Homo sapiens: one gene and its partners. The protein of the gene in region 2 interacts with the protein of the main gene of each other region in a biochemical or structural test. Each region holds a gene or a part of one and is shown on either strand. Other genes may lie near its edges. The genes, in order: DYNLT1, BAG3 and LRRK1.

The links.
Region 1: the proteins of BAG3 (region 2) and DYNLT1 form a complex in vitro, tested with the Homo sapiens proteins (one study listed by BioGRID).
Region 3: the proteins of BAG3 (region 2) and LRRK1 form a complex in vitro, tested with the Homo sapiens proteins (2 studies listed by BioGRID and IntAct, with this or other methods).

Annotation. Positions count from the first base shown.
Region 1 is NC_000006.12:158,638,728-158,641,763, reverse strand, and holds part of DYNLT1 (dynein light chain Tctex-type 1), read left to right. Parts: intron 1-403; coding exon 404-445; intron 446-3,036. UniProt on the Homo sapiens protein: Acts as one of several non-catalytic accessory components of the cytoplasmic dynein 1 complex that are thought to be involved in linking dynein to cargos and to adapter proteins that regulate dynein function.
Region 2 is NC_000010.11:119,668,350-119,672,000, forward strand, and holds part of BAG3 (BAG family molecular chaperone regulator 3), read left to right. Parts: intron 1-1,501; coding exon 1,502-1,828; intron 1,829-3,651. UniProt on the Homo sapiens protein: Co-chaperone and adapter protein that connects different classes of molecular chaperones including heat shock proteins 70 (HSP70s), e.g. HSPA1A/HSP70 or HSPA8/HSC70, and small heat shock proteins (sHSPs), e.g. HSPB8.
Region 3 is NC_000015.10:101,048,215-101,051,865, forward strand, and holds part of LRRK1 (leucine-rich repeat serine/threonine-protein kinase 1), read left to right. Parts: intron 1-279; coding exon 280-443; intron 444-878; exon of another isoform or gene 879-1,429; coding exon 1,430-1,569; intron 1,570-2,419; exon of another isoform or gene 2,420-3,496; coding exon 3,497-3,651.

The DNA of each region.
Region 1 (3,036 bases), on a different chromosome or scaffold from region 2:
CCCATCTCTACTAAAAATACGAAAATTAGCCGGGTGTGGTGGAGGGCACCTGTAATCCCAGCTACTTGGGAGGCTGAGGCAGGAGAATCACTTGAACCTGGGAGGCAGAGATTGCAGTGAGCTGAGATTGCGCCACTGCATTCCAGCCTGGGCTACAGAGCGACACTCCGTCTCAAAAATAAATAAATAAAAATAAAACAATACCTTTAAATTATGTGCATGTATTCTAGTCTTCTGGTTTCTGAAGACTGTAATGCCATCCTTGGTAAAGCTGAACAGTCTAGTTAGATTATTTCTAAGGTCTTCATTTCTACATTATGTTCATTACCTACATTTGCATTTATCAATGTAGTGGAAATATCTTTTAAATAAATCAAACTTAACTGAATGTTCTTCCTTACAGACTGCTTTTGTTGTTGATGAAGTGAGCAACATTGTAAAAGAGGTAAGAGGAGAAATGCTCACTTCTTAAATGTTTAATGGCTTATATTAGAGAAAATAATGTGTTTTAAATACTATCTTGGAATTGTTTCGACTGAGTCTGTGTGTTTTGGTGTTTCAAATAACAGTTTTTACTTCAGTAAATAGCTAGATAAGAGTTGCTTCTATATTATGTAAATTACATATTTTAAATCAGATAAGGAGTTTTATGTACATAGCATTATTACTGCATATCACCAAGATTTGATTCTATAATCTTTTAAGCATAAAAGAATCCTGGTATACAAATAAATGTCTCCAGGGTTGAATGAAGAAAGAGTGAGTATAAGAAAATTGAACAATCAATTTCCAGTTATTCTGGACCTAGTGATCCAGTTTGGGGCCTATTTGCTTACTTTTCTTACATTCCTAAATTTCACACTTTATTGTGTTGTTGATCATGAAGAGGAAGAGAGACAGAAGGGATGTTTGTTACTCATTCAGAAAGTACACACTGAGGGAGCGTGCAGGGCATAGACCCTTCTGGAGTTTACAGCTGAGGGGCAGGCAGGGCAGACACATCAAACAGTCCTGCTGGAAGGTGTCAGCCTGCATTTGCTGTGTGGTAAGTGCCACTAGTGGTGGTGCTGTGAGAGCACTGAACTGGGAATGTGACCCACCCAGGGAGTTCAGGGACCATTTCGAGCTGAAATCTGCAGAATGAGAAGTAGGGGTAATGCAGTAAAAAGAGGGGACAAGGCCCCCTGAGACTGGGAAGTGGGGGCAGTGCATGGTGTGTGAGGGAGTGAAAGGAGGTGGGTGTGGCTGGAGCGGTGCTGAGAGCTAGGGGCTCATTCCTACCTAGGGTAGGAATGAAGCCAGAAAGAGTTTTCCTCATCAGCTTCCCTGCCTTCCCTGGGTAAAATGGGGCACAGATACTAAAGCCATTGGCTAAAAGAAAACTATTAGATGATCTGAATTTAATGATACTGTTTGGGGTTTCAGATGTAATTTAGAATTTAATGTAAATTATTGACTAGTGTTTGATAAAAAACCGCAACCTATGTTTGTGATCAGTATCCAAAGGCAAAATGATTTTGTTTGACCATTTACATTGTTCAGCATCAGGAGTGACTTTCTGGTTGCTTTGCAGGATCTGTACGTTTGGTTTTCATGGTTTTTCTAAATACACAGTTTCACGTGGAACACAGCAGGGGGCAGGAAGGTGGGTGGATTACACCAGAACTGGGAACAGTGGAGGGGGCTTGTTGGGAAGTCTAGTTCTGCCGCAGTTGTTTTCTGCCTTATCTTTGACTTGGTTACCAGCTTTCAATTAGCAAGTGCAATTGAAAGTACACATTTCCATGCTGGGCGCGATGGCTCACACCTGTCATCCCAGCACATTGGGAGGCCGAGGTGGGCGGATCATGAGGTCAAGAGATCGAGACCATCCTGTCCAACATGGTGAAACCCCGTCTCTACTAAAAATACAAAAATAAGCCAGGCTTGGTGGCGCATGCCTGTAGTCCCAGCTCCTTGGGAGGCTGAGGCAGGAGAATCGCTTGAACCCGGGAGATGGAGGGTGCAGTAAGCCAAGATCACGCCACTGCAATCCAGTCTGGGCGACAGAGCAAGACTCTGTCTTAAAAAAACAAAACAAAACAAACACATTTCCAATCCACATGGAAACATGAGGTGACATTGCAGTGTTACTTGAACTTGTGTCACTGGCCTCAACAGCTTTTTTGCCGCCGCAATAGGTAATTCTGTACTCAAGTGACCCTAAATATTGGGTAGTAGTCAATTTGCGCAGGTCCAAAATTGGTGGAGGGTTCCCTCCTCCTTGAAAAACTGAATTTCAAAGTATGTGCGGAGGGAGAGCTGGCGGAGGGAGAGGTTTACCTTCAACAAAGCCTCCCCCACCCTTTGACGGGAGAGGTTTAGCTTGAACAAAGCCCCCCCTACCCTTTGACAATGCCCAGGTCTAGTAATACTGCTGTTCTCTTAAACCGGGACTTCTGGCCCCCCAGCCCTCTTGTAGCCTCTGAGCTGGGAGGGAGCACAGTGGCCGAGGACAAGAAGTAAGCCAGCCCTATGTGTAACGTGACTACTCAAGAGTCTCAGGGAGATGATCAGCAGGTCAGTGGGTAGAAATCAGAGTGACCTAGGGAGGTTTTAGGTCCTCAAAAGCAAGGTCGCCAGATCTAAGCCCCAGGCATCAGATCCCAGTCCATCACCACCATGCACAGCTCAGATCCCTGGACTGCTGGTTTGCTCTGCCTGTCTGAGGACAGACCTTGGCCCTCACTGAATGTTGTTATTTTCACTTTAGGTCATAACTGTCATAGAAACTCAGGTTCCTGGTTTCCAGCACAGCAAGTTAGGGGTAGAGAATAAAGTTGCTGAGATGCAAGCACACTGGCATCCATGTGAAAGGGGAGCTGACAATGAAAAACTCAGAAAATCATACAATGGCAATATCATAATGATAAGCTTAGCAAGAGCAGCGACAATGAGCTTGCATTGTCAGATAACCCCCAAAGAATACAGCATAGATAAAGAAGTAAACGTATAATAAAGAAAAAAAGTTGGGCTGGGTGCTGTGGCTTATGCCTG
Region 2 (3,651 bases):
ACTTTTGATTGATTCCGCAGCAGTAGAGATTGTCCCCTGCAAGCTCATAGATTGTTAGCCTTTGGCGTTTGTTCGCCGTGCAGACAGCTGCCTTCGTCAGGAAAGATCACTCCCCTTCTTAAGAGTTGCCTTACACAGATATATGCAAATGACACTTATCAGTAGCTCCCCTCCTGGGAAAGGACCCTCGGTGCTCGGGGACTGTTAGGACTTCTGTTGCGCAGCCCAGCTTGCTGAGAGATGGCATTGCCCAGTGAGTGACTGGCCAGCCTTGTTGTCTGAAATAAGATCTTTCCTGTGGTACATCTGGAACTTGGCCTTCTCAAGGGTCCCAAAATAGCCAGGCCACTGAAGGGAGAACTTCAAGAGAGGACATAAGAGAAGGACCCCAACTGCTCCTTGCCCAAGCAGGCTCTGTTGCGTTGAAGAAAAAGTTCTTCAGTGATACTTGTTAAAGCACAGTCAGGAAGATTTATTCGGGGCCATCAAGATAGGCACAGGGACCACGGCAGTGGGGTCGTGCAGTCATGGGTAGAGACTGGGCACAACTTCAAATACAACACGGGCGATTGGGAATTTATAGTCAAGGAGCAGTGTGGATGGAAAATTAGAAGAGGAAACATCAGGGCTAAGGGTGTTTCTGGCTATGCTGACCAAACAGGATTCTTGCCGAAGACAGGCCAGGGTGATTAGACAGCACCTGGAGGCTGTGGAAGCTGATCAGATAGTGAGGCTGGGGAGGGGGTTTCTGGCTAAACTGACTTAGCAGTGTCTTTTGCTAAAACTTGACTTTACAAGGAAGTGCACAGATGGGCCTAGGAGATGCTTCGGAAGCCTAAGATTTGGTCAAGCAGAGAATCTTTGTCAGTTGGCATCGTTAGGCGACACAGTTAACCCTGGGTGCCCCTCTCTCCCTATGCTGCCTCTGCATCCCTGTCCTTCCCCTTCCTGCAAATTGTTCTAACAATACTCCTGAGGAGGCAGCCCTCGCTCCCCAGCCCACTTCTCTGTAAAGATTCCCAAACTGTGTCCTGTGTTTGGGCCCAGTACAAGCTCTATATTGCTGGGAAATGTGAGGGCCTTTTTGGAAACAGAGACGCTTGCTGTAATGTAGAGGTTGGAGCTGACCCCTGCTCCTGGAGCTCATCTTCTGATCCGGGTCTCTGAAAATGCGGGCATGGGCAGCTCTCCTACACTCACCGCTTCCCTCAGTCACCCAGAAAAGAAACCTGTCTTACCAGTTTGGAGAATTGGGACCTTTCCTTTGCTTAACAGATACTTTTGGCTTTCTCCTGATGCCCCTAATTCCTAAACTGTTGGCCAAATAGCAACCTCTATGGGGTGGGGGGTTTGGAGGGTACAGGGGCTGGGAGCTGGCTGACGCTTTGAGGCCCAAGTCACTCGGGAAGATCACAATGCCAAGCGCCACAGTGTTTCCTCTGCCAGGAGGGTTCACTTCCCAGTTTCTAACCAGCCTGTGTTTCTCCACTTTTTATTTCAGGAGACTCCATCCTCTGCCAATGGCCCTTCCCGGGAGGGCTCTAGGCTGCCGCCTGCTAGGGAAGGCCACCCTGTGTACCCCCAGCTCCGACCAGGCTACATTCCCATTCCTGTGCTCCATGAAGGCGCTGAGAACCGGCAGGTGCACCCTTTCCATGTCTATCCCCAGCCTGGGATGCAGCGATTCCGAACTGAGGCGGCAGCAGCGGCTCCTCAGAGGTCCCAGTCACCTCTGCGGGGCATGCCAGAAACCACTCAGCCAGATAAACAGTGTGGACAGGTGGCAGCGGCGGCGGCAGCCCAGCCCCCAGCCTCCCACGGACCTGAGGTAAGGAGAGGCCAGGCTCACCAGCCTGCTGGGGAGCAAGCCGCTGTGCTTCCCAGGCCGGGCCCATCCCCTCAGGACAGTGCCCTGGGCCAGGCACCTGTTCACATGCAGGGCATCTGGGTCTAGCCTGCAGCATCAGAGGTCACCCAGCAAAGACAGGGTGATGGCCCCACATCATCCCCCAGCATCTCATAGGGCTGTTCTTCAGTGGGGCAGGGCAGGAATCATGTGGCTTCTTTTTGTAGCTAAGGAACGGCTCGGAAGGGCACACTGCAGCCTGCCTGCTCCAGATGCACACAGGTGGAGGGAGCAGAGCTGGGACCGGAAGCCTGGCCTGCCTTCTGGCGCCTAATTTCCATGCTCCTTATTCACACTGGGCTTTCTATTCAGAAGCACAGAGATAGCTGTGCATTATTTTGTTCAGTTCAATGCTTATGGATAAATCTTAACCGCTTGTGGAGCTATGTTGACAGGAAAATGAGACCCCATGCCTGCCCTCACCGTGCACCACAGTTTCAAAAGAAATAAGGAGTCAGGAAGGCAGCTGCTTTAAGACAGCATTTTAATCCTGAAGCCAAACATCTCAGGGATATGTCAATGGATTCTGTGCATTAATAGCTAAAAAATAGTTCTTAATCTGGTTCTTAGCTGAGATTTGAGGCATTCCTAGTAGGATTCCTAAGCAGTAAGTCCTCTCATTTTCCTGTCTGCACATCATCCTGTGGTGTGTGCCAGCGTTGTTCCTGGGCACAAACTCCCGTGTCCTATCTGCACCCTGAGTCATGCTTGCCTCTCAGCTCCGTCTGAATCTGTTCAGCTTCACACCTGCTTGAGAGTGAAAGTTACAGTTAATGTGGGATACCTTTTTTCTTTTCTTAGAGAGGTAGTACCTGGCTGAGGCAGGTGGATCACTTGAGGCCAGGAATTCAAGACCAGCCTGGCTAACACGGTGAAACCCCGTCTCTACAAAAAATACAAAAATTAGCCGGGCATGGTGGCACATTCCTGTAATCCCAGCTACTCAGGAGGCTGAGGCAGGAGAATTGCTTAAACCCAGGAGGCAGAGGTTGCAGTGAGCCGAGATCGCACCACTGCACTCCAGCCTAGGTGATAGAGCGAGACTGTCTCAAAAATAAAAAAATAAGTAATGCCTATATTTATAATGGTTTTGCTGCAAGAAATCAAAGTGACACATAAATGCGAGACATCTTCACAAATTTAGGCTAACAAAGCACTTAGAAGAGGAAATGCTCTCAATTTCGAGGTGAATAGAAGGTGGCCCAGCAGGGAAAGGTGCTTGACCTGCCTTGGGCCACACGGGATGCTGGCAGCTCCCAGTTGCTCAGCCGAGTTCTCTGTAGATTGGCAGAGAAAGGGTAGTGGGGACAACACATCCCTTGTATGAGCGCTTCCTGTGTGCTGGCCTGGGGCTGAGGCACATGCCCAGGTGACTGACCTCATCTTCAGAGCAGCCCAGTGAGGGAGGGGCACTCTTCCTATATTTCAAATGAAGCTTAGAAAATGATTGAATTACTAGGAATTTGAACATAGGCCCCTTGATTCCAAAGCCTTCAGTCTTTGTTGTGTGTGTGTGTGTTTTGTTTTGTTTTGTTTTGTTTTGCTTTGTTTGAGGTGGAGTCTCTCTCTGTTGCCCAGACTGGAGTGCAGTGGTGTGATCTCAAATCACTGCAACCTCTGCCTCCTAGGTTCAAGCAATTCCCCTGCCTCAGCCTCCTGAGTAGCTGGCACTACAGGCATGCGCCGCCACACCCAGCTAATTTTTGTATTTTTGGTAGAGATGGGGTTTCACCATGTTGGCCAGG
Region 3 (3,651 bases), on a different chromosome or scaffold from region 2:
ATATGAATTTTTGCTTGTAAAGTCAGAAAGGGAAAAAAATTTTAAAGGAAAGCCTATTTTTCAATTCTTTGGAAAAACTGTGTTTCCGGAATTCCCTGGAGACCCCGTCAGCTAATGTAACGTTCAATTTGGCAGCAGGGATGAGCAGCGTGGGAGGAGAGGGTGGGAAAGATGGGGGACATTTATCAAGATGGGGCCCAGCCCGGCCTCTGCAGAGCTCTGCCCAGGGCCAGCGAGGAGCCCAGAATACTTAAGCAGGGTCTTTTCTCTGTCTTTCAGCTTTTTGAAAACAAGAAGAATACTAAAAGCAGGAACAGGAAAGTCACCATTTACAGTTTTACAGGAAACCAGAGAAATCGCTGTAGCACATTCAGAGTGAAAAGAAATCAGACCATCTATTGGCAGGAAGGGCTCCTGGTCACTTTTGATGGGGGCTACCTCAGGTAGGAACACCTGGAAGCCCACCTGCCAGGTCAGCAGGTGCCACAGCAGCCACCGCGGGGCCACGTCAGCAGGATGCCTCATCCTCTTGGTGTCCAGAATTTTGCTCGTGAGAGCGGCTCGTCATGGCAGCTTGCTAGAAATGTGAGGCCCTCCCACGAGTGTCCCAGAGGCTCCGGTCTCCTCACCCCTGCTGAGCCCCCCTTGCAGGACGGGAAAGGCAAAGGCAGATGTGGCGGCCACAGCTGAGGACTTGAGGGACGTGGCGGCCATTGAGCTCAGGAGAGCCTCAGGCACTTCCCATGGTTATTCAGGTCACCATGGTGACCTTGCAGCCATCCTGCCCGTCCCCTTGTTCTGTGAGAAGCCAGGCTGGGGACAGGGGATGCTGAGACTCCTCAGCCCCCATCTCCACTGCCCATAACCAGACACGGAACTCAGCTCCCTGTGCCATTTATTCTTGGTTTTTTGAGAGCGGTAGACCTAAAGTCAGCCCAACAGGTTTAACGAATGATAAACACCCAAGATTATTTTAATGTTTACAATGAACTTTGCAAAATATTCTTCAGCTCTGTGAGAGGAGAAGAAGGGAAAAGGGGAGGTAACTTTACAGAGGGCTTGATTGGCACCTGCCTCTTCCGCATAGATGTTCTCACTTAAGGCCCAGGGTTGCTGCTGGACAGATGAGCATACTGAGGTTCAGGGAGGTCTGGGAACTTCCTTAGGGCCTCACCTGAGGGTCAGCTCCCAGGCTGAGCGTCCCTGACTGCAATCTTCCTCGTGCCTCCTTCACCAGGCCAGGTCCGGGGCAAGAACAAGGCAGGGCCACGCACACGTACATACAGGGAGGAGTCCCCCATCGGTCCTGCAGGGCACAGAGTCTCTCCAGGTCCCCGGGGGTTGGTTCCTGTCCCTGGGGGTAGGGATATCATCCCAGGGTCCCCCAGAGCCAGATCGCAATGGGCTCCTTTTGGTCTCTGGATTGCAGTGTGGAATCTTCCGACGTGAACTGGAAAAAGAAGAAAAGCGGAGGAATGAAAATTGTTTGCCAATCAGAAGTGAGGGACTTCTCAGCCATGGCTTTCATCACGGACCACGTCAATTCCTTGATTGATCAGTGGTTTCCCGGTAAGAGGAGATGCTAGAAGCAAGCCCTCATTCATGCTAATATTTCTTATGAATCAGGGTGGGGCTGCTGCTTTCGGGGTGGACAAAAATCCCACTGGGATTCAGCCCAAGAAAACTAGGGGGTCTTAACAGCACTTTGGTGGGAGTCCTGGCCCCCGAGAAGTCCAGCTCTGTCACTGGGGGGAGTCCCACGGGGAGGACTGGGCTCGGACACCACTGGGAATGTGCAGGGAAGCGGCCTGCCAGCTGCCCACAGGCGTGGCAAGAAAGATGACACTGGTACCACGAGTGGTCCACGGAGATGCTCAGTGTGAGCTCACACGTGTCTTGTTTTCATAGTGAGGACTGTGTGGCTGAAATTGCAGGGGAGCCGGCAGATGGAAATTTATCCCCTGCGCAGGGGCAGGGATGGAGGGGAGCCGTGGCAGCCAAGGGGCCTTGCTCTCCTCCCCTGCCACCCCACCCATCCCGGCGGTGATCAAACCACTAACACCGCCCTTCTCAGACCCTTTGGATCTGTTTCTTCATTGATAGTTCACCCAAAAAAAGTACTCTTTGAGTGAAGTTCCTGAGGCCTCCTGTTTGTTTTGCTCCTGGGGTGGAGACGACTCCCAGAGCAGCCTGCCAGGGGGAGGCCATCTGGGGTTTAATGGGGCAAGCAGCTGTGGGAGGGGCTGCCCTGAGAGCTTCAGCCCTGAACGCTGGAGGCCAAGCAGCTGTGGGACAGGCTGCCCGAGAGCCTCAGCCCCTGAACGCTGGAGGCCAAGCAGCTGTGGGAGAGCGGGTTTGGAATTCCAGTGCCACCCCTGCAAGCCTCGGCTGGTCCCCCGGCCTCCTGGGCCGGCCTCACCTGCATGCAATGCCTGCATCCCAGACAGCATCAGGGAAGGTGGCTAAGAGGCAGTGGCAGAATGCACTCAGGATACACATTCCAGATCCCAGGGTCTGGTCTCTGTCAGGGTTGGGGTCCTTCACACTGTTGGCAGGAAGGGTGACCTACAAGGAAAAAAGGCTTAGAAAGGAGCCCTCGGAGAAGTCAGCTGGGTGTGCGTGTCATGGTGATTTGGGAGGCACTTGGCTGTCTAAGGGGGCCCTTAGGCCCATGTGAACCCTTCTGGGCACTTTGCAGCTCCCCACCAGCCAGTGTTCCCCACACAGCAGGTGCTGGGCAGTTTGACAGGTGGGTCCCTTAGACAGTCACCTGAGATGGAAAGGGCTCTGGTGAGCACCTGAGACAGATCGCCTGGAGCCAGCATCCCCAGCCAGGGGCCCCTCCCAACGGGATGCCTTACACATGGACCTGCAGATATCAGATGTGCCTGGAAAGTTCTAGGCATCCACCTCCTACCTTGCATGAAGCAGGCAGTTGGCCGGCCCTGAGGGCACCTCCACAGGGCATCTTGGAGGGTGTTTCTCTGCACCTCCTCTCAGAGGCGTGGGGGAATCCCGTGTCCGGTGACTGAGTTTCGTCTATGATAATTTGCACTCATTTCTGCCCCTGCATTGCCCTTCATGGACATTGTAAACCTGATGTTTCTAATTGTAAGAAGGGTGCCTTCCCCACTGCCGTGATGGTTGGAGGATAGCTCACACCTAGTCTGCGATGACCTGTTAGGGCCCAGTCATGCAGGAGGGATCCCCCCACTCCTCTCAGGCCCCCCAGCCAGCCTGCTCAGTGTCCCGACCACTGGACAGTTCTCGGAAGCATCCTGAACCCTCCCTGGACACATCTTTCAGGACAAACAATTGCGCTCTCCAAAAAGGCACCCGAATGTGGCAGTGGGTTTCAGCCTGTCTCTTGGGTACAGGCCAGGACAGGCAGCTCCCCTGCTGCGAAGGCCTCAGGGCCTGGGGTGCAGAGTGCTGCTCGGGGGGCCCTCCTGCACCACCTTCTTGTGAAGCTGTCTCCTGCTCTGTCCTTATTTAGCCCTGACAGCCACAGAGAGCGACGGGACGCCACTCATGGAGCAGTACGTGCCCTGCCCGGTCTGCGAGACAGCCTGGGCCCAGCACACGGACCCCAGTGAGAAATCAGAGGATGTGCAGTACTTCGACATGGAAGACTGTGTCCTGACGGCCATC